Regions from separate parts of the Homo sapiens genome. Here regions 1 and 2 are each linked to region 3. The links come from fine-mapping of genetic effects on gene expression. A gene starts in region 3. Each other region holds a variant in brackets. All regions are shown on one strand. Distances are from middle to middle.

Evidence for each region. PIP is the estimated chance that this variant, and not a neighbour inherited with it, causes the effect. A credible set is the group of variants that fine-mapping cannot tell apart.
Region 1: its variant is the best candidate, but not a certain one, in a credible set for the expression of THAP5 in prefrontal cortex (GTEx, PIP 0.55).
Region 2: its variant is the best candidate, but not a certain one, in a credible set for the expression of THAP5 in substantia nigra (GTEx, PIP 0.62).

Annotation. Positions count from the first base shown.
Region 1 is chr7:108,539,138-108,545,715 of GRCh38, reverse strand. It overlaps a transcript of THAP5 not described here. Among named protein-coding and RNA genes, the nearest start is that of PNPLA8, 16 kb to the right of the region's middle. The variant G/A (reference allele first, on the strand shown) is at 3,441.
Region 2 is chr7:108,725,965-108,732,542 of GRCh38, reverse strand. No RefSeq gene overlaps it. Among named protein-coding and RNA genes, the nearest start is that of LINC02903, 160 kb to the left of the region's middle. The variant A/C (reference allele first, on the strand shown) is at 3,932.
Region 3 is chr7:108,567,583-108,574,036 of GRCh38, reverse strand. It overlaps THAP5 (THAP domain containing 5), which reads left to right and starts at 4,331. Exons shown (of 3, transcript NM_001130475.3): 1 at 4,331-4,547. The coding sequence starts at 4,468. It overlaps DNAJB9 (DnaJ heat shock protein family (Hsp40) member B9), which reads right to left and starts at 4,163. Exons shown (of 3, transcript NM_012328.3): 1 at 3,934-4,163; 2 at 2,094-2,320; 3 at 1-1,138. The coding sequence starts at 2,310. The coding sequence ends at 684. RefSeq lists enhancers at 4,008-4,735, 4,269-4,748.

The sequences.
Region 1 (6,578 bases), 28 kb after region 3:
AACCCAACAGTACAAAAGGTGATCTATCAGCCACTCCTAAATCTTCCTTATGTTGGAATTATCTAAATTCTAAATTGAATTTTTAAGTCAAGACTTTGATATTTTTCTAAATAGATATTTTTCTAGACAATTATCTTCATCTTGAATGACTTATCTCTTGATTAGGATTTTATTCTATGAAGCTTAAGCTCTACCTAAATTTATTCTCTATCTTCACAGATATATTATTCCTAAAATTGTCTGTAAATATTTGAACTAGTCACGCTTTTCACAATGGAACTGACAGCAAATTGTCACTTGAGACTTAGAAGCTGCCATTCTATCTTAATGCTGTGGAATGTTTTGCTGCCAACTCCCTCAAAATAACAAAAATTTGCGGTTTACAATTGTTCTGGGAACTATACTAATCTATTAGACATGAAAAGTCACTTTCACTACACTTTAAAAACAGTATAGACATTCTTAACACTACATAGTAATATTAATAATGCTATGCTTCATTTACTGGTCTTTTTAAATCTTATATCAATTCATTTTATGGAGCAATCCAACTGTTTTTGTCATTCTTGGCAGTGTGTCTATTTTTAAAAAGGTAGCCTCAAATTCAACAAACTATAGCAATCTATATCTTTCTAAATAAGACAAAAATAAAACTAAATATAATTTATTTTTTTTCTGAAAATATCTCTACTAGTTTCCTTTGATTGCCTCTTCCTTCTAAACTTGCATTACTGCATTTCAAGTGTGGAATTTACAGAGAATCTAGGCCAGGCGTAGTGGCTCATGCCTGTAATCCCAGCACTTTGGGACTAGCAGACTGCTTGAGCCCAGGAGTTCAAGACCAGCCTGGGCAACATGATGAAACCCCGTCTCTATAAAAAATTACAAAAATTAGCTGGGCATGGTGATGTGCCCCTGTAGCCCCAGTTATTCAGGAGGCTGAGGCAGGAGAATTGCTTAAGCCCAAGAGGCAGAAGTTGTAGTGAGCTGAGATTGCACCTCTGCTACTCCAGCCTGGGTGACAGAGTGAGACCCTGTCTCATAATTAATTAATTAATTAATTAATTACTAAAGAATTTATGGAGAGTTTGTTTCATAAGCGTTTTTTACTCCCCATATGTTGTTGTTGTTGTTTACCTATTCTATATCAATGACCTTCTTTGTTTTTGTTTTTGTTTTTTTTTTGAGATGGAGTCTTGCTCTGTCACCCAGGCTGGAGTGCAGTGGCGCGATCTCGGCTCTCTGCAACCTCTGCCTCCCAGGTTCAAGCAATTCTCTTGCCTTGGCCTCCTGAGTAGCTGGGATTACAGGCGCCTGCCACCATGCCCAGCTAATTTTTGTATTTTTAGTAGAGATGGGGTTTCACCATGTTGGCCAGGCTGATCTTGAACTCCTGACTGACCTGAGGTGATCCACCCGCCTCGGCCTCCCAAAGTGCTGGGATTACAGATGTAAACCAGCGTCCCTGGCCCAATGTCCTTCTTTATTTAGAAGATTATTGACAGTTTGGACCATGAATTGTCTCCTTTTCTTCCTTAAATGTTTAGTAGACTTCATCAGGAAAATCACTTAGGCTTAGAATTTTCTTTGTGGAGAAGTTTTTGAAAACAAATGCAATTACTTTAATAGAAAAAAGATTATTCAGAATTTCTTTTTGATCTTGTGTTAGTTTTGGTAAGTTATATTTTTCAAAGACTATCCATTTCATCTAAGTTGTCAAATTTATTGGCATATAGTCGTTCATAATTTTTTTTATATTTTAGCCCAGCCTACCCCCCATTATATATAGGAAAATGAGGTCCCAGTGGTGACTTGTATAACTTCCTAGCTCAAACTGGCATGATTTGCTGTTAACTTCTGATGTGCAATACATTGTGTTTACCTATGTGTATGTTTACCTAAATATCCCACAAAATTTTGCATGCCAGATGGTCAAAACTATCACTGGGATAAAAAAAATAGGGCCAACCCAGGAAAATCCTGATCACATAGGTCTTGGATATCCTTGGCTGGAACAATTTAGTATAGCAATAAAAAATACTGGGAGATATTTCAGACCTAGATATGCAAAACTGAAGATCACAGCTACTGCAAATTGCAACATTTTAAAGACGACTTTCTCTTGGAAAGTAATCATTTGGTGATAGACTGCTTATCATCAGTCCCTAGTTGTGATGTTTGTAGTACCATCGTGATGGCAGATGATCACCATCAACTTCTTTTCTTCCTGGCTAAGCATGCCTTACTCCATCAAGAGATAGAGGGCAGAACCTATTCTTCCCTTCTCTTGAATCCGGACTGGCCTTAGTGACTTGCTTGATGTTCTAGGGCTCCCAAACCTAGCTCATAAAAAGCCTTGCAGCTTCTGCCTGGGCCTCTTGCAACACTCATTCTTGGGAAAGCAATTTGCTATATAAGAAGTCAGACAACCCTGAGCTCACCATGCTCTGGAAGCCCTGTGATACTGTTCCAGTCAATTGTTTTGAGCTGGCTGGGCACAGTGGCTCACACAGGTAATCCCAGCACTTTGGGAGGCTGAGGCGGGCGGATCATGAGGTCAGGAGATCGAGACAATCCTGGCTAATACGGTGAAACTCAGTCTCTACTAAAAATACAAAAAAATTAGCCGGGCGTGGTGACAGGCACCTGTAATCCCACCTACTCGGGAGGCTCAGGCAGGCGAATTGCTTGAACCTGGGAGACGGAGGTTCCAATGAGCCGAGATCGTGCCACTGCACTCCAGCCTGGGTGACAAAGCGAGACTCCATCTCAAAAAAATAAAATAAAATAAATTAAATTTAAAAAAAAAAGTTTTGAGCCTAGTCTTCTAGCCATTCCCACCAAGGCACCAGATATGTAAGGGAAGCCATTTTGAATTCTCCAGACCAGCCCATCTGCCAGCTGAATGCCACTAAGTGACTTCAGTCAATGCCATATGAAACAGAAGATGCTTGGCCAGGCACAGTGGCTCACGCCTGTAATCCCAGCACTTTGAGAGGCCGAGGCAGATGGATCACTTGAGGTCAGGAGTTACAGACCAGACTGGCCAATGTGGTGAAACCCTGTCTCTACCAATAAAACAAAAATTAGCTGGGCGTGGTGGCACATGCCTGTAATTCCAGCTACTCAGGAGGCTGAGGCAGGAGAATCGCTTGAACCCAGGAGGTGGAGGTTACAGTGAGCCGAGATCGTGCCACTGCACTCCAGCCTGGGCACCAAGAGCAAAACTCTGTCTCCAAAAACAAAACAAAACAAACAAAAAAAAGAAACAGAAGATGCCAAGCCATGCCTAAATATCTGACCAGGGAAATTGTGAAATATAATAAAATGCTTGTTTTTTTCAACTACTAAGTTTCAGGATTGTTATGCAGAAAAAGATAACCTGAGTGCCATGATTATTTTATAAATGGAGGCAAACATCTTTACCATCTAGCCTTATA[G/A]ACATTTGTGATATTACAAATTAGTTGGGAAAGAACCTGGAAAAATGCCACTCAAGTCCACCATGCTACATAATATATATCTATATCTAAATCTAGATATAGATATAGATATAGATCCTAAGCAATTCTGTTATCCCCTCCACAGTGACAGAATAGCAATACAAATTCGACAAACTATGAAAGTTCTTGCCAAAACATTTGTTTGAATTTAAGGGTTTTTTTTCCTGATCTTCAGCCAATTCAGACTTATTTTTGTGTTCAAGGTGCTGCAATGAACAGGACTGTCAGATTATTGAATGTCATCTTGAAGAGAAAAGAAAAACATCTTCACATATAAGGAAATATTACAGTTGTAACTTAAGGGTTAAGCTGTAAAGTTTTAGCTGGTAAACATAATGGGCTGGCTCAATTTCAGGATGCTTTGAAATGCATTTATATGATTGAATGAACCTGCAACAGGGGATTTGCTTCTTGAGGAATTCTGTCTTACTGCTGTATTAAAGACCTTTTCACTGGATGCCTACAGAGCCCCATACAACTTAAAAGTTACTTTGAGCTTTGCAACTGTTTTTGCAGAGAATCATTAGCAAAACAACAAAAGTGAGCATATACATAAGAATGCTAAATTTAATCAAGTCTCTAGCGCTTTTTAAACCACCTGGATCATAAATTACTTTTGGTAAAAGCCTAACAACTAATTTGGTTTAGTTAGAACTTATTTAATTGGAAATTATACGTGAAGTAATTGAATGTGTCTATTGTGAGTTTTTAATCTTCCTTTTAATTCTTTAATGCAGAATAATTGTATAGCAACAGAAAATACAGTCAATATCTAAACTCATAGATTCCTTTTCTGCTCAAGGAATGATCATTCTTTTTTTTTTTTTTTAAATAGAAATGGTTGCCATTAAACATTCATCTCCTTGGGGCATATTAAAAATTATTACTAGGCTCAAATGGATGCCATGCTTCTATAAAGCTAGGTCTTTTCATGTTAGCTCTAAAGTGGTGTTGCCAAATTGCTCAGATTACTAGAGAAAATAAAGAGCAGAGTAACTGGAAATTGACTTGAACAACTTAAACTTCCAGCCTTATTTTTAGCTCCAAAGAACAATTTTCAACGTATTTTTCAAATGCCTTAACAAAAGTCATTAACTAGAGTGCACACTTATAAATAAAATGGCTTGTAAATACTAAATTGTATATATATTAAAACTCAATGGTGCTGGGCATGGTGGCTCATGCCTGTAATCCCAGCACTATGGGAGGCCAAGGCAGGTGGATCGCCTGAGGTCAGGAGTTCAAAACCAGCCTGGCCAACATGGTGAAACCCCATCTCTACTAAAAATACAAAAAATTAGTTGGGCATGGTGGCAGGTGCCTCTAATCCCAGCTACTCAGGAGGCTGAGGCAGGAAAATTGCTTGAACCTGGGAGGTGGAGGTTGCAGTGAGCTGAGATCACGCCATTGCACTCCAGCCTAGGCAACAAGAGAGAAACTCTGTCTCAAAAAAATAAAAAAACAAGAAAATAAAAAAAAAACTTTAATGGCTAAATAAGTTCATGACCATGTTAGAGTTCATTTCTCAGAATACACAAAAATCTATGTCATTAGTGGAGTGTCTTGTATTTGGCAATCATGGTCAGTAAATGAGTAGAAAAGCTATCTTATCACTTGAGACTAGTAAAATATAGAGATATTCACTGAGCAGACTAAATTGATTTATGGCTTATACTTGCATTGTGATGCAATAAAAGTTATAATAAAATAAAAACTGGGTTTTTTTAATAGATGTATAGATCAAAAGCCACGTTGTGGACTATTCATATGCATTGTGGAACCTATTTCTCCCACCCATACCTTGGAGGATTAATTAATTCTCTTATCAACAAATACGTAATGGGCATTTGTATTAGTCAGGGTTCTCTAGAGGGACAGAACTAATAGGATAGCTACATATATTATATATATACACACATATATATCTATACATGCATCCATCTATATATATATATATATATATATATATATATATATATATAAAGGAGAGTTTATTAAGTATTAACTCACATGATCACAAGGTTCCACAATAGGCCATCTGCAAGCTGAGGAGCAAGGAAAGCCAGTCCAAGTCCCAAAACTGAAGAACTTGGGAGTCTGATGTTCCAGGGCAGGAAGCACCCAGCACAGGAGAAAGATGTAGGCTGGGAGGCTAGGCAAGTCTAGTCTTTTCATGTTTTTCTGCCTGCTTTATGTTCTAGTTGCTTTGGCAGCTGATTAGATGGTATGCACCAGATTAAGGGTGGGCTTTGGCAACACCCTCACAGACACACCCAGGATCAATACTTTACATCTACCAATCCAATCAAGTTGACACTCAGTATTAACCATCAAAAGTCCACCCCTTGTCAACTTGAACCCATACAAATCTCCTGAGATCATACATAATCTTTAAGTAAAGACAATAATAAGGTCATAATTACTCCTAACATAATACGACTATTCTTTGTACAACCAGAAACGCATCAATCCCCAACCCAAATACTATTACATAAAGTTAACATACTTAAATGCTGATGTGAAGTCAATAAATCTTATGTCCCATGATAAAGGAGAAAGGAAATAAAATGAAGATGTTTTCTTAGTACAAGTGTATACATGCATAAACGTGTTTTTAACAAAAGAAGGAAATATTCATGACAATTGCAGTCCTCGTTTCTGCAGCTGGTCACGTGGTCGTAGCTGGTATTGACAACTACCTTCTTCTACCACCATTCTGTATTCCCTTTGCTTTCAGCAAGCACCTCAGCAGGTCATGGTTTTTTTCCTGGTGGAGTGACCCAAACCTTCATTCCTGAAGGGTCTGGGCTATTTGTAGTCCTGCCTGGATTGGGCTGTTGTAGTTTCCCATTGACCTTAATCACAGGGCATGGTAATATTAAGAGATGCCCTAATGGATCTCCTATATTCTATGTGTACTCTTCCTTACCTCCCTTGTGGAGTAGTCGACAGATTTCATCTTGATAGTCCGGGTCAATCACCCCAGCCAACACTGTAACTCCCTTCTTAGCCTGTTGACTTAAAGGTAGGAGGAGCCCAAGTGTCCAGGTGGCAATCATAACTTCCAGTTTAATGGAA
Region 2 (6,578 bases), 160 kb before region 3:
AAAAATTTCCAGACTGACTTTTCTACTAGGAGGTAGACCAAAAAATATGCTAATAAGATTTATTATACTTCATCCAATAAATATACTAATAAGATTTTCTAATCTCAAATTAACTATAGTTTTTTAAATCCCCTTCAGCCCCTCTCTTTAAATTCTATTTTTACCTTTGTCATTTGACTCAGTCTACAACTAACTTTCTAACATTGGAGTGAACAATTTTCATTCAAACAAACTGTGAGAGTGCAAAAGTACCCAACTAAATGTCTCTGAGTTCTTCTTTAGTTTATTTAAACTTTGAAACATTGTTCTTAATCTCAATTGATCCGTCAAGAATCTGATAAAAGTTATTGAGTCTCTCCTCAAAAATGCAACACATCCAACCACACCAAATTTTACAGATTCACAGGCTTCCTGATGTGTCCTGTTGTGTCTGCATTCCCCAATGCAAGAAGCCCTGGCTGATGGGAACTTACAAACTTTTCCAGGACATCCAGAAAAAGCTTTAGAGACATTTACAGGTGAGACAGAAACTTACTCTCAAAGTCATTTGCAAATATTAGCCCTTCTCATTCTTTCTAGCACAAAACCATACAACAGGCAAGATATCTCCACATCTGTCCTGAGCCTTTCTTGAATACCTGATAAGACCCACCTCAGAGAATGCAATGTGTCTAAACAGTTATATGAGCTGACTAAGCCTTTGAATGACTTCTATTGACATGCTTATGACATTTCCAGATAGTTTTGCCTAATAGTTCTAGTTTCCTATGGGACTTTGCCAAATAATGAAGTCAATATTATCAGCTTTGTTTCTTTAATCAAATCTAACTATGACATATCTACTTTTTGTTACACATAATTAGAATTGCTTCTTTCAGACAACACATGAGAAATGTTATCAAAGCCCAAGAAATTCTCCAATGAAAGGACAAGATTCTCACTGCACTTTGGCAGCCTTCTCTCTCCCAGCCTTACCTCTCAATTTTAGCACAGGCCCGGCCTGATGACAAGACACATAACATTTAAATTGGAAATGATCATTTTTTTGTGCTCAACAGTATCAATATACCTTACTGAATTTCAATAACTTACCATATGTGAATCTACACTGTGAATATTTGCCTATATTGAAGTTGAGATTAACTTCAAAAAGCAGAATCCTACTTTGCTTGGTCATTTACCTTGAAAAAGTAAGTAACTTTAGTGCTTTCCAATGGTTATAATGCATCCTATTTGTTAAAATTGAATAAATGGTAAGTAATCAATGTGTGTGTTCTAAATGCTGTTCATTGTCAAACTGAGTCTGGCCCTTATTTAAAGATATCCTGCATAAGTAATTGCATCCCTCGATACCTGATTTTAAAAAAGTAGTTGATTTGCCAGTATTTTATTGAGGATTTTTGCATCCATGTTCATCAAGGATATTGGTCTAAAATTATCTTTTTTGGTTGTGTCTCTGCCCAGCTTTGATATCAGGATGATGCTGGCCTCATAAAATGAGTTAGGGAGGATTCCCTCTTTTTCTATTGATTGGAATAGTTTCAGAAGGAATGGTACCAGCTTCTCCTTGTACCTCTGATGGAATTCGGCTGTGAATCCATCTGGTCCTGGACTTTTTTTGGTTGGTAAGCTATTGATTATTGCCACAACTTCAGAGCCTGTTATTGGTCTATTCAGAGATTCAACTTCTTCCTGGTTTAGTCTTGGGAGGGTGTATGTGTCAAGGAATTTATCCATTTCTTCTAGATTTTCTAGTTTATTTGTGTAGAGGTGCTTGTAGTATTCTCTGATGGTAGTTTCTATTTCTGTGGGATCAGTGGTAATATCCCCTTTATTATTTTTTATTGCATCTATTTGATTCTTCTCTCTTTTCTTCTTTATTAGTCTTGCTAGCGGTCTATCAATTTTGTTGATCTTTTCAAAAAACCAGCTCCTGGATTCATTAATTTTTTGAAGGGTTTTTTGTGTCTCCATTTCCTTCAGTTCTGCTCTGATTTTAGTTATTTCTTGCCTTCTGCTAGCTTTTGAATGTGTTTGCTCTTGCTTTTCTAGTTCTTTTAATTGTGATGTTAGGGTGTCAATTTTGGATCTTTCCTGCTTTCTCTTGTGGGCATTTAGTGCTATAAATTTCCCTCTACACACTGCTTTGAATGTGTCCCAGAGATTCTGGTATGTTTTGTCTTTGTTCTCGTTGGTTTCAAAGAACATCTTTATTTCTGCCTTCATTTCGTTACATACCCAGTAGTCATTCAGGAGCAGGTTGTTCAGTTTCCATGTAGTGGAGCAGTTTTGAGTGAGTTTCTTAATCCTGAGTTCTAGTTTGATTGCACTGTGGTCTGAGAGACAGTTTGTTATAATTTTTGTTCTTTTACATTTGCTGAGGAGCGCTTTACTTCCAACTATGTGGTCAATTTTGGAATAGGTGTGGTGTGGTGCTGAAAAAAATGTATATTCTGTTGATTTGGGGTGGAGAGTTCTGTAGATGTCTATTAGGTCCGCTTGGTGCAGAGCTGAGTTCAATTCCTGGGTATCCTTGTTAACTTTCTGTCTCGTTGATCTGTCTAATGTTGACAGTGGGGTGTTAAAGTCTCCCATTATTATTGTGTGGGAGTCTAAGTCTTTCTGTAGGTCACTCAGGACTTGCTTTATGAATCTGGGTGCTCCTGTATTGGGTGCATATATATTTAGGATAGTTAGCTCTTCTTGTTGAATTGATCCCTTTACCAGTATGTAATAGCCTTGTCTCTTTTGATCTTTGTTGGTTTAAAGTCTGTTTTATCAGAGACTAGGATTGAAACCCCTGCCTTTTTTTGTTTTCCATTTGCTTGGTAGATCTTCCTGCATCCCTTTATTTTGAGCCTATGTGTTTCTTTGCATGTGAGATGGGTATCTGAATACAGCACACTGATGGGTCTTGATTCTTTATCCAATTTGCCAGTCTGTGTCTTTTAATTGGAGCATTTAGCCCATTTACATTTAAAGTTAATATATTATGTGTGAATTTGGTCCTGTCATTATGATGTTAGCTGGTTATTTTGCTCGTTAGTTGATGCAGTATCTTCCTAGCCTTGATGGTCTTTACATTTTGTCATGTTTTTGCAGTGGCTGGTACCGGTTGTTCCTTTCCATGTTTAGTGCTTCCTTCAGGAGCTCTTTTAGGGCAGGCCTGGTGGTGACAAAATCTCTCAGCATTTGAATCCAGCAGCACATCAAAAAGCTTATCCACCATAATCGAGTGGGCTTCATCCCTAGGATGCAAGTCTGGTTCAACATACACAAATCAATAAATGTAATCCAGTATATAAACAGAACCAAAGACAAAAACCACATCATTATCTCAATAGATGCAGAAAAGGCCTTTGACAAAATTCAACAACCCTTCATGCTAAAAACTCTCAATAAATTAGGTATTGATGGGACGTATCTCAAAAGAATAAGTGCTATCTATGACAAACCCACAGCCAATATCATACTGAATGGGCAAAAACGGGAAGCATTCCCTTTGAAAACTGGCACAAGACAGGGATGCCCTCTCTCATCACTCCTAGTCAACATAGTGTTGGAAGTTCTGGACAGGGCAATTAGGCAGGAGAAGGAAATAAAGGGTATTCAATTAGGAAAAGAGAAAGTCAAATTGTCCCTGTTTGCAGATGACATGATTGTATATCTAGAAAACCCCTTGTCTCAGCCCAAAATCTCCTTAAGCTGATAAGCAACTTCAGCAAAGTCTCAGGATACAAAATCAATGTACAAAAATCACAAGCATTCTTATATACCTAATAGACAAACAGAGAGCCAAATCATGAGTGAACTCCCATTCACAATTGCTTCAAAGAGAATCAAATACCTAGGAATCCATCTTACAAGGGATGTGAAGGACTTCTTCAAGGAGAACTACAAACCACTGCTCAAGGAAATAAAAGAGGATACA[A/C]ACAAATGGAAGAACATTCCATGCTCATGGGTAGGAAGAATCAATATCGTGAAAATGGCCATACTGCCCAAGGTAATTTATAGATTCAATGCCATCCCCATCAAGCTACGAATGACTTTCTTCACAGAATTGGAGAAAACTACTTTAAAGTTCATATGGAACCAAAAAAGAGCCCGCATTGCCAAGTCAATCCTAAGCCAAAAGAATAAAGCTGGAGGCATCATGCTACCTGACTTCAAACTATACTACAAGGCTACAGTAACCAAAACAGCATTGTACTGGTACCAAAACAGAGATATAGGTTAATGGAACAGAACAGAGCCCTCAGAAATAATGCCACATATCTACAACCATCTGATCTTTGACAAACCTGACAAAAACAAGCAATGGGGAAAGGATTCCCTATTTAATAAACGGTGCTGGGAAAACTGGCTAGCCATACGTAGGAAGCTGAAACTGGATCCCTTCCTTGCACCTTATACAAAAATTAATTCAAGATGGATTAAAGACTTACATGTTAGACCTAAAACCATAAAAATCCTAGAAGAAAACCTAGGCAATACCATTCAGGACATAGGCATGGGCAAGGATTTCATGTCTAAAACACCAAAAGCAATGGCAACAAAAGCCAAAATTGACAAATGGGATCTAATTAAACTGAAGAGCATCTGCACAGCAAAAGAAACTACCATCAGAGTGAACAGGCAACCTACAAAATGGGAGAAAATTTTCGCAACCTACTCATCTGACAAAGGGCTAATATCCAGAATCTACAATGAACTCAAACAAATTTACAAGAAAAAAACAAACAACCCCATCAACAAGTGGTTGAAGGATATGAACAGACACTTCTCAAAAGAAGACATTTATGCAGCCAAAAAACACATGAAAAAATGCTCATCATCACTGGCCATCAGAGAAATGCAAATCAAAACCACAATGAGATACCATCTCACACCAGTTAGAATGGCGATCATTAAAAAGTCAGGAAACAACAGCTGCTGGAGAGGATGTGGAGAAATAGGAACAATTTTACACTGTTGGTGGGACTGTAAACTAGTTCAACCATTGTGGAAGTCAGTGTGGTGATTCCTCAGGGATCTAGAACTAGAAATACCATTTGACCCAGCAATCCCATCACTGGGTATATACCCAAAGGACTATAAATCATGCTGCTATAATGACACATGCACATGTATGTTTATTGTGGCACTATTCACAATAGCAAAGACTTGGAACCAACTCAAATGTCCAACAGCAATGGACTGGATTAAGAAAATGTGGCACATATACACCATGGAATACTATACAGCCATAAAAATGATGAGTTCATGTCCTTTGTAGGGACATGGATGAAACTGGAAACCATCATTCTCAGCAAACTATCGCGAGGACAAAAAACCAAACACCGCATGTTCTCACTCATAGGTGGGAATTGAACAACGAGAACATATGGACACAGGAAGGGGAACATCACACTCTGGGGACTGTTGTGGGGTGGGGGAAAGGGGGGAGGGGTAGCATTAGGAGATATACGTAATGCTAAATGACGAGTTAATGGGTGCAGCACACCAACATGGCACATGTATACATATGTAACAAACCTGCACATTCTGCACATGTATCCTAAAACTTAAAGTATAATAATAATAAAATAAAATAAATAAATAAAGTAGTTGAAGTAACCACAGTCCAAAAGACCTCAGCCAGTTCATTTTTAAAGCTTAGTGTTGAGGAGCTATTCTCCAGAGAGGTTCAACATGTCTTGTGACAGTTTTCATCCAGACTATCTTTCCCAAGAATGATTATATAGTGAACATATTGGAAGTTAAAGATAGTGTCTCCCTCTGGGGCAGAGAGCAGAATGTTTTTTAGTGACCAGAATAATTTTTTAAGTCTCCTTTCAGAACAAAGTTTTGGCAAATTGGCCAGAAGTTTCTTTATAAGACTGGAGCCCAGGGATCCTCAGCTGTGATGCAGACCCACTGTGTGCACACCATTCATCTAGGCCACTCCACATATCCTCATAGGACTTGGAGGACAAGAGGAACAAATGGGACATGAAGCTCAAGCTCTTTGCTGTGCCATGAACAAGATATCCTTTTTCTCTGATCTAGATGTCTCATGTCTTCTGCCAGCACTGTAACTGTGGCAGACTTACTCGTTAGTTTGCGAGCAGGGCACGGTTCTTGACACTAAGCTAAATAACCAAAGACAATCAGGATAGAAAATAATATCTAGGGATTTCAACATCTGGCCAAGATGAAGTAATGGGCCAAATTTATCTTCATGCCTAGAACACTGGGAAAAAAATATATGAAGACAATGGTTGTTAGACATTGGACATCAGGTGGTATAAGACAGTGCTCTACACAAGAAGGGAAATAAAGGGCCTGTAAAAGTGTCCAGGATGAATGGAGAAGAACCCAGAGGGATCCCAACAATCTCCTTAAGTTAAGGACATAGAGTTGAGAAACCAAGGCGGGGAGGGCAATTAGAGTGTGCAAGGCAGAGTAGAGGGGAAGAGATTGCTGCACAAAGACAGAAATCCAGATATCTGCAGAGGATTTGTCTCAGGTCATCAAATGAGTCCTGATCCATGCATTTGTGTGAAGAAACTACCAAAGGCAGAAAGAAGAACCATCTT
Region 3 (6,454 bases):
ACTACAAAATCATTTTTAGGCTGGAACCAAACACATAACAATCTCTTGGCAATATTTCGTTAAGTTTTCAACTTTTTTCCAGCCTAAATGACTATGGGCAATAAAACCATTTCCTTTACCCCAGTTCTACTGTAGAAAGGCACAGCGCTGTGGTAAATATCAAACCATTCCTTTCTCAACCTTTCAGTAGCAATTAACCAAGATACTGTTCTCCTTTACTGAATGACTCAATTATACAGTTTCATGTACACTCTGCAACGCAAGTCACAGATGTCATAGAACATGCAACTTTGAATTAGTAAAGGTTTCACTGCAAAAATCATTAGGTTCACACAATTTAAATCTACAATTAACTTTTAAAGTTTAATCAGGTAAACTCAATATTTTCTTGGTAATAATACTGGTGATATTAGTGAGCCCAAGGGCAGGTAGAGAAAAAGCACTAGGCAAAATTACGTGTTTTTTAAAGAAACTTTCCTAATCAGGGAAATAATTAGCATTTTGTCTACTCGTTGAATGTTGAATTTGTCAAAAAAAAAAAACCCTTAAATATATTTAATAGCTATATCAAATTGTTTAAAGTGAAATCATGCACTTGTCAAAATAGTTCACAGAAAATTGTTTAGCATCAAAGATAATGAGGAAGAGTCAACCAGTTGGATTTAGTGAGAATAGAATAAGAACTACTGTCCTGAACAGTCAGTGTATGTAGTAACCATATTTCCTCTTCGTTGAGTGACAGTCCTGCAGTGCTTGCTAGATCCATGAAATCTATTTTCAGTCTGTACTGTATGCTGATTGGTAGAGTCAAAACCACTAAAAGAAAACATTTTCTCCATATCTTCAAACATGTCATCAAATAATCCACCTCCAAAAGAAAATTCTTGGAAATGATGCCTTTGTCTACTGGAACCACCATCCTGGCGTGTCTGGAAATGATTTTCAAAACGCTTCTTGGATCCAGTGTTTTGGTTTTGACCAAAAAAGCCAAAGTCTTTAAATAAGTCATCAAAATTGAAGTTAAATGACTGCTCAAAAGAACTTCCACTACCTCTTTGTCCTTTACCACTAGTAAAAGCACTGTGTCCAAGTGTATCATACTCTTTTCGTCTATTAGCATCTGAGAGTGTTTCATATGCTGAAAGTGACAAAAATATTTTTAGTAACTGAAGGTAAAATATTCAAAATTACATATATTCAAATCTCTTCAAGCAAGTGAACTGAATACTATTATTTTAGGGAAGAATTTCGCATCAGAAATAAAAGCAAAACACTACAAATATAAGCATCAAGTTAATCAAAATTATAAAATAAAGCAGAAACTGTCTTATTAACTGCTGAGTTATCAGCAGTTGGCACAATGCCATCTGCAATACTCAATAAAGTTATTAAATGTTACCATTACTACAAATAAACATGTGGGCAACAATCAGAGTTCTTTAATCTTCATATTATTCGTGTGAAATCATTAATTGTATTAAAAAATTAAACCATCAACTATAACCAATTAATAGGAATTAAGATTTTGCACCTCCTTACTAAAGTAAACTGTTTAATTCTAACTCCCTACTCAGTTACCTCCATCCAACAATAATTACTGAATGCTCAGCAGGTGCAATTTGTTTTAGAGCTAGTCTGAAGTCAAAATTTGTTCCAATTTTTTCTTTGAAGACAAATATGGCTTTGAAAAGCAGATCAAGTGAATAAAGCACTTTAGAGTCTAGTTTAATTTTTAAGTCTTTAATGTTTAAAATGTAAAATATTCTGTTTCATAAGTTAGTTGATAAGAATTTTGGGTACCTAAAATTCTTTTTTGTCATAGAAGCAACAGTGATCTTATAAATAATATAGAATAGATTTTCAATATTTTTAGATACGTATACCAATAAAATTATCTATTATTCTTTCATATATTTATTCAGGAATCAAAGCATCTGTGATAAGAAAATAATCTCAGAGAATCACCCAATATTTATACATAAATCCCACTCCACCTCCCATCTCCACAAAACCTTCAAATACAAACACTTCTTAGCTATCATTCTCCTTACTAGTTAATACCCATGACACTTCAGAGATTGTCATTTATTTACCTTCTGCAATCTCTCTGAATTTTGCTTCAGCATCCGGGCTCTTATTTTTGTCAGGGTGGTACTTCATGGCCAACTTGTGAAAGGCCTTCTTGATTTGGCGCTCTGATGCCGATTTTGGCACACCTAAGATATCATAGTAGCTTTTTGAGGCCAGAATTAATTCTGTTATCATTAAAATGCAGATTGCAAAGATGAAAATTGACTGGGGAGTAGCCATTTCTAATATCCTAAAACAGAAAAGAAAAAAAAATGTTATGGATGGAGCTAATCTTAAAACGTTTTTCTTTTAAAAGAAATCCAACACAAGGTAAACCTAATGCAGTATCAAAATAGTAAGCATACAGTATCTATTACCTGTCCACATGTAATTTCACTTTTAGTTTTATAACTCTCAAACTGGCTTAACCTTATTGAGAACAAAAATAATTCTTGGCTTTGTCTGTCTACTAATACTCTGGCCATACACAGAGGAGATAGAAAATTATCAATAACTGACTTTTAACCAGTTTATATTGAAGATTCATCATATGCAAGCATTGTAAGAAAAAAAAAGAAAACCAAATAATATAAGATCCCAACTTTCCTTTCAAGACTTCATATCCTGAAAGTAATAATGTATTTAACTTCACAGAAAAAAAAAACATTAAAAAAAAAAGGTGGCGCACCAAGGTAAATAGCCCAGTATATCTAAATTAGTATTATTAATCTCGCTCCAAAAATTCAGCTTTCATTTCAGCAGGTGAGCCAAGGACTGCAAATAGAGAATCTTAATATCACAATACTAATACTGACAATACAATAGAATGTTGTCTTTTTCCCAAATGTAAGATCCCAAATGTTTAACCAGGAAGCATGGCTAAATATTGTTTAAAACTCATGATGAACAGAATTTAAGATTTCTGCTAAAGCTGCCAGAAAAATGAACTTTGATAGTTTGTACTGTGGTTAAGGCAGATTCTTACTTTCACAAACTCAGTAGTTAAAATATTTCTTTTACCTTTAAACCATTAAAGAAATGTTAACTTAGAATTCTTGACAATATGTATTCAATGACTTGAGATTCAAAACGAAGGGATGGATCCTGTTTTTTGAATACGGGACCACCAGAGTCCTTAGTAACCTATAATGCCATAATAAGGCTGACGAAAAACACTACGGTTTGTGGAAATTGCCTGGCTTCCTCTCCAGCGGCCTTTCCTGAGAGTAATTAGCAGGCAGGTAGATTACTTATTTCCAGAGAGTTACTCGTAGTCACGGGTACCAAGAATCAAGAACCACTTCTCGGTTTAAGGAACACAACAGTGTGTCCCATGGACGCTGCGTCAACTGCAGGTTGCTCCCTAGTCAAAGGGCGGATCTAAAACTGACAGGGAGGCGCCTCACTGGTTCAGCAGACGTTATTCCACGGTCTCAAGGTGGACATCTAATGATTTTTTTTTAGCAGACTAGTTTTGTATTGTACAGACTTCTCATCCCCAAGACGGCCCCGCCAGCCAGCAGCCCGTGCCTTATTCCCCAGCCTCGGTGGGCGGCTGGGCTAGACCCTCCAACCTTCACCTAAAGGCGACTGGCACTTTCCCTGCCCGCCCAGGCCCCGCCGCAGAAGCTGCCCGAGACCCGGGCTCTAATCCGGCGCCCGTGAAAGCCGGCGCCACAACCCAAAACACGATTCTGTGATGCGGCTGTCTCCGTTCTTCCATTCTCTCGGCCAAAAACATGCAGCCCATTGTCCCTGCGGCGACCGTGGCGGACACCGAGGCCAAGTCAGCTCACAAAGACAGGCCTGGGCTACGGGGACCCTCCGAACTCCCCTCCCCACGACCCCGGCCTCGTCCCTCACCTGCACCCTCCGACTACTGCTGCTCCTCCACAGAGCTGAGGCGCTGGCGACCCTGACGATCGGCTCGGGTCGGCAGCTTGGGCCCGGCCCCTCACCGCGGCCTCCCGGAGCTGGCACGCACCCTAATCTCGGTCGTACACCGACCTAGCGCTCCTCCTTCCCCGCCGGCGCCCAGTCCCCTCTCAGCCAGCTCCTCACAGGCAGGAGGTAGCCGCTGGCGCCACCACCTCAGAAGACCTACACGAAACGCTTCCCCATTGGCTTCTGCCTCCCCACGTGATCCCGGCGCCCTACGCGCACGTGGAAAACTGTTGTTGCTGCTAGGGCTGTGCGCCACTTCCGGCTTCAACCCCCGAAAAGGCGGTGCTTAAACCGGAGGAGGCGGAAGTGAGTCGACAGACGAGGCGGCTTTCCCGGCAGAATGCTAGCGCAGGCGCAGGGGCTCGAGAGGCCTGGACCTGTGGCGCATCCTCAGTGAGGAGGGCCGCCCTGCATCCGTCGCCGGCCCCGGTCTCCAGGGGCCTCACCCGAGTCATGCCCCGCTATTGCGCAGCGATTTGTTGTAAGAACCGCCGGGGACGAAACAATAAAGACCGGAAGCTGAGTTTTTATCCGTAAGTTGTTTCTGGAGCAGAAGCGTCAGCCTCGCCGTGAGGCCTTGGACCTGTGGCCTTTGGGCTTGGGTGTCTCCTGTCCGCTCTGCCAGTGAGTCCTCAGCTCTCCGTACGTGGCCCGTCGCCCGCGGCAAGACGGAGGGAAGGCGCTAGTTCAGTTTAGCTAGCAATGCCCTTCTTGCGCGAGGACTGCTGGCTGGTGGCGAGGCCCAGGAGCCTGTTTGGGTGTTAACAGTTAAAACAGTAAAGTTTGCGCGGGCTTCTGTGGTTTTCAGTCTTTTCCCCACTTCACGTGATCTCATTTCATTGAACAACATTAACCACCATTTAAGATACGTGAAACCTGCGAAGTGGAAAGGTGCACGCAAAGTTAATTTACACCCCCCGCGAGGTAGGTCGCATAGGTATAATTTCATCCCACTTTTCTCCTGAGGAAACTGAGGCCCGGAATGATTAGGTAACCGACCTTGAAAGTTTAGTGTCAGAGCCAGAATTATAAACTAGTCTTCTGCTTAGGGCTGTAGATACTCTGCGGAGAACAAGGTTTTATTCTGTTACTCTGAATTACTAGAGCCACGATATATTTCCATCAAACTACTGAAGCACTGATTTTTATTCAGAAGTACAGACAAGCAGTGTCGTATAATAATTAGGGGTCCAGGCTTCAATGCTAGATCCTGGTTCCACTATTCTGTAGCTTAATGACCTCTTGGAAAGTATTTAAGCTTTGGTGTCTCACATATCTCATCTGTAACATGGAGATGTTAATAGTACTCACATGATTAATAACACATGAAAAGCAACATATTTAAAATACTGCATTTCCATTTTTTCTTGTATTTAAAAACAATTCATTTAGATCTAACCTGGTTCAGATTTTCAGCAGTTGTTTTGTGCTCATTTTACTTTAGACCTGAAGGACTTATTCATTAATGATTCGGCTGCTTTCCAGTATTTTAATTAATGGAAAAAAAATTGATAACCCCACCAGGCGCGGTGGCTCACGCCTGTAATCCCAGCACTTTGGGAGGCTGAGGCGGGCAGATCACCTGAGGTCGGCAGTCTGAGACCAGCCTGACCAACATGGAGAAACCCCGTCTGTACTAAAAATACAAAATTAGCTGCGCGTGGCGGCGCATGCCTGTGATCTCAGCTGCTCGGGAGGCTGAGGCAGGTGAATCGCTTGAACCTGGGAGGTGGAGGTTGAGGTGAGCCGAGATCACACCATTGCACCACAGCCTGAGCAACAAGAGCGAAACTCCGTCTCAAAAGAAAAAAAAACTGATAACCCCAAGTAATTCACAATCCATGGCAATATTTCCAGGATTGTCTCCCTTGAAGCCCAGCCTCAAGATGCAAAGAGATGTTTGGGGGAGGAAAACAATCTAATCCACTTTCAGTTTATAGGGAAATACTACTGTACTAATGGCTCTATCTCTGAGAATGTTTGTAGCAAAAGATCATGTTGAACTTGATTTAACCCCGTATTTCCCAGATTTATTTGGCCTTTGATATTGGAGATGGGGTATAACCCCACACTGAAATTTTTAACTAAACTTTGTGGACCTTACAGTAACTTTTTAGGAAGGAAAAAATAATGCAAGTGAATTGTAAAGATTTTTTTCACTGAAAATGTGAATTTAGTAAAAGTTGTATTATTTCTAGGGTTTTTAAAAAATTTTCTTGTGTAATCCACAAAATAAAAATTGAATTAGTTTTATTCTCCAGTAGCGTCAAACTTGAATTGAATTTGCTCATGTTAACACTACAGCAAACTGTAGTTTAAATGTATATGAATTTGGGAATTCAGTTAATATAGTGTCCAGTTTGTACTGTGATTATCTTATGCCTTTTGGGGAATTACATAAGACAATGAAACAAAATTATCAAATGAATTGAACCAATAT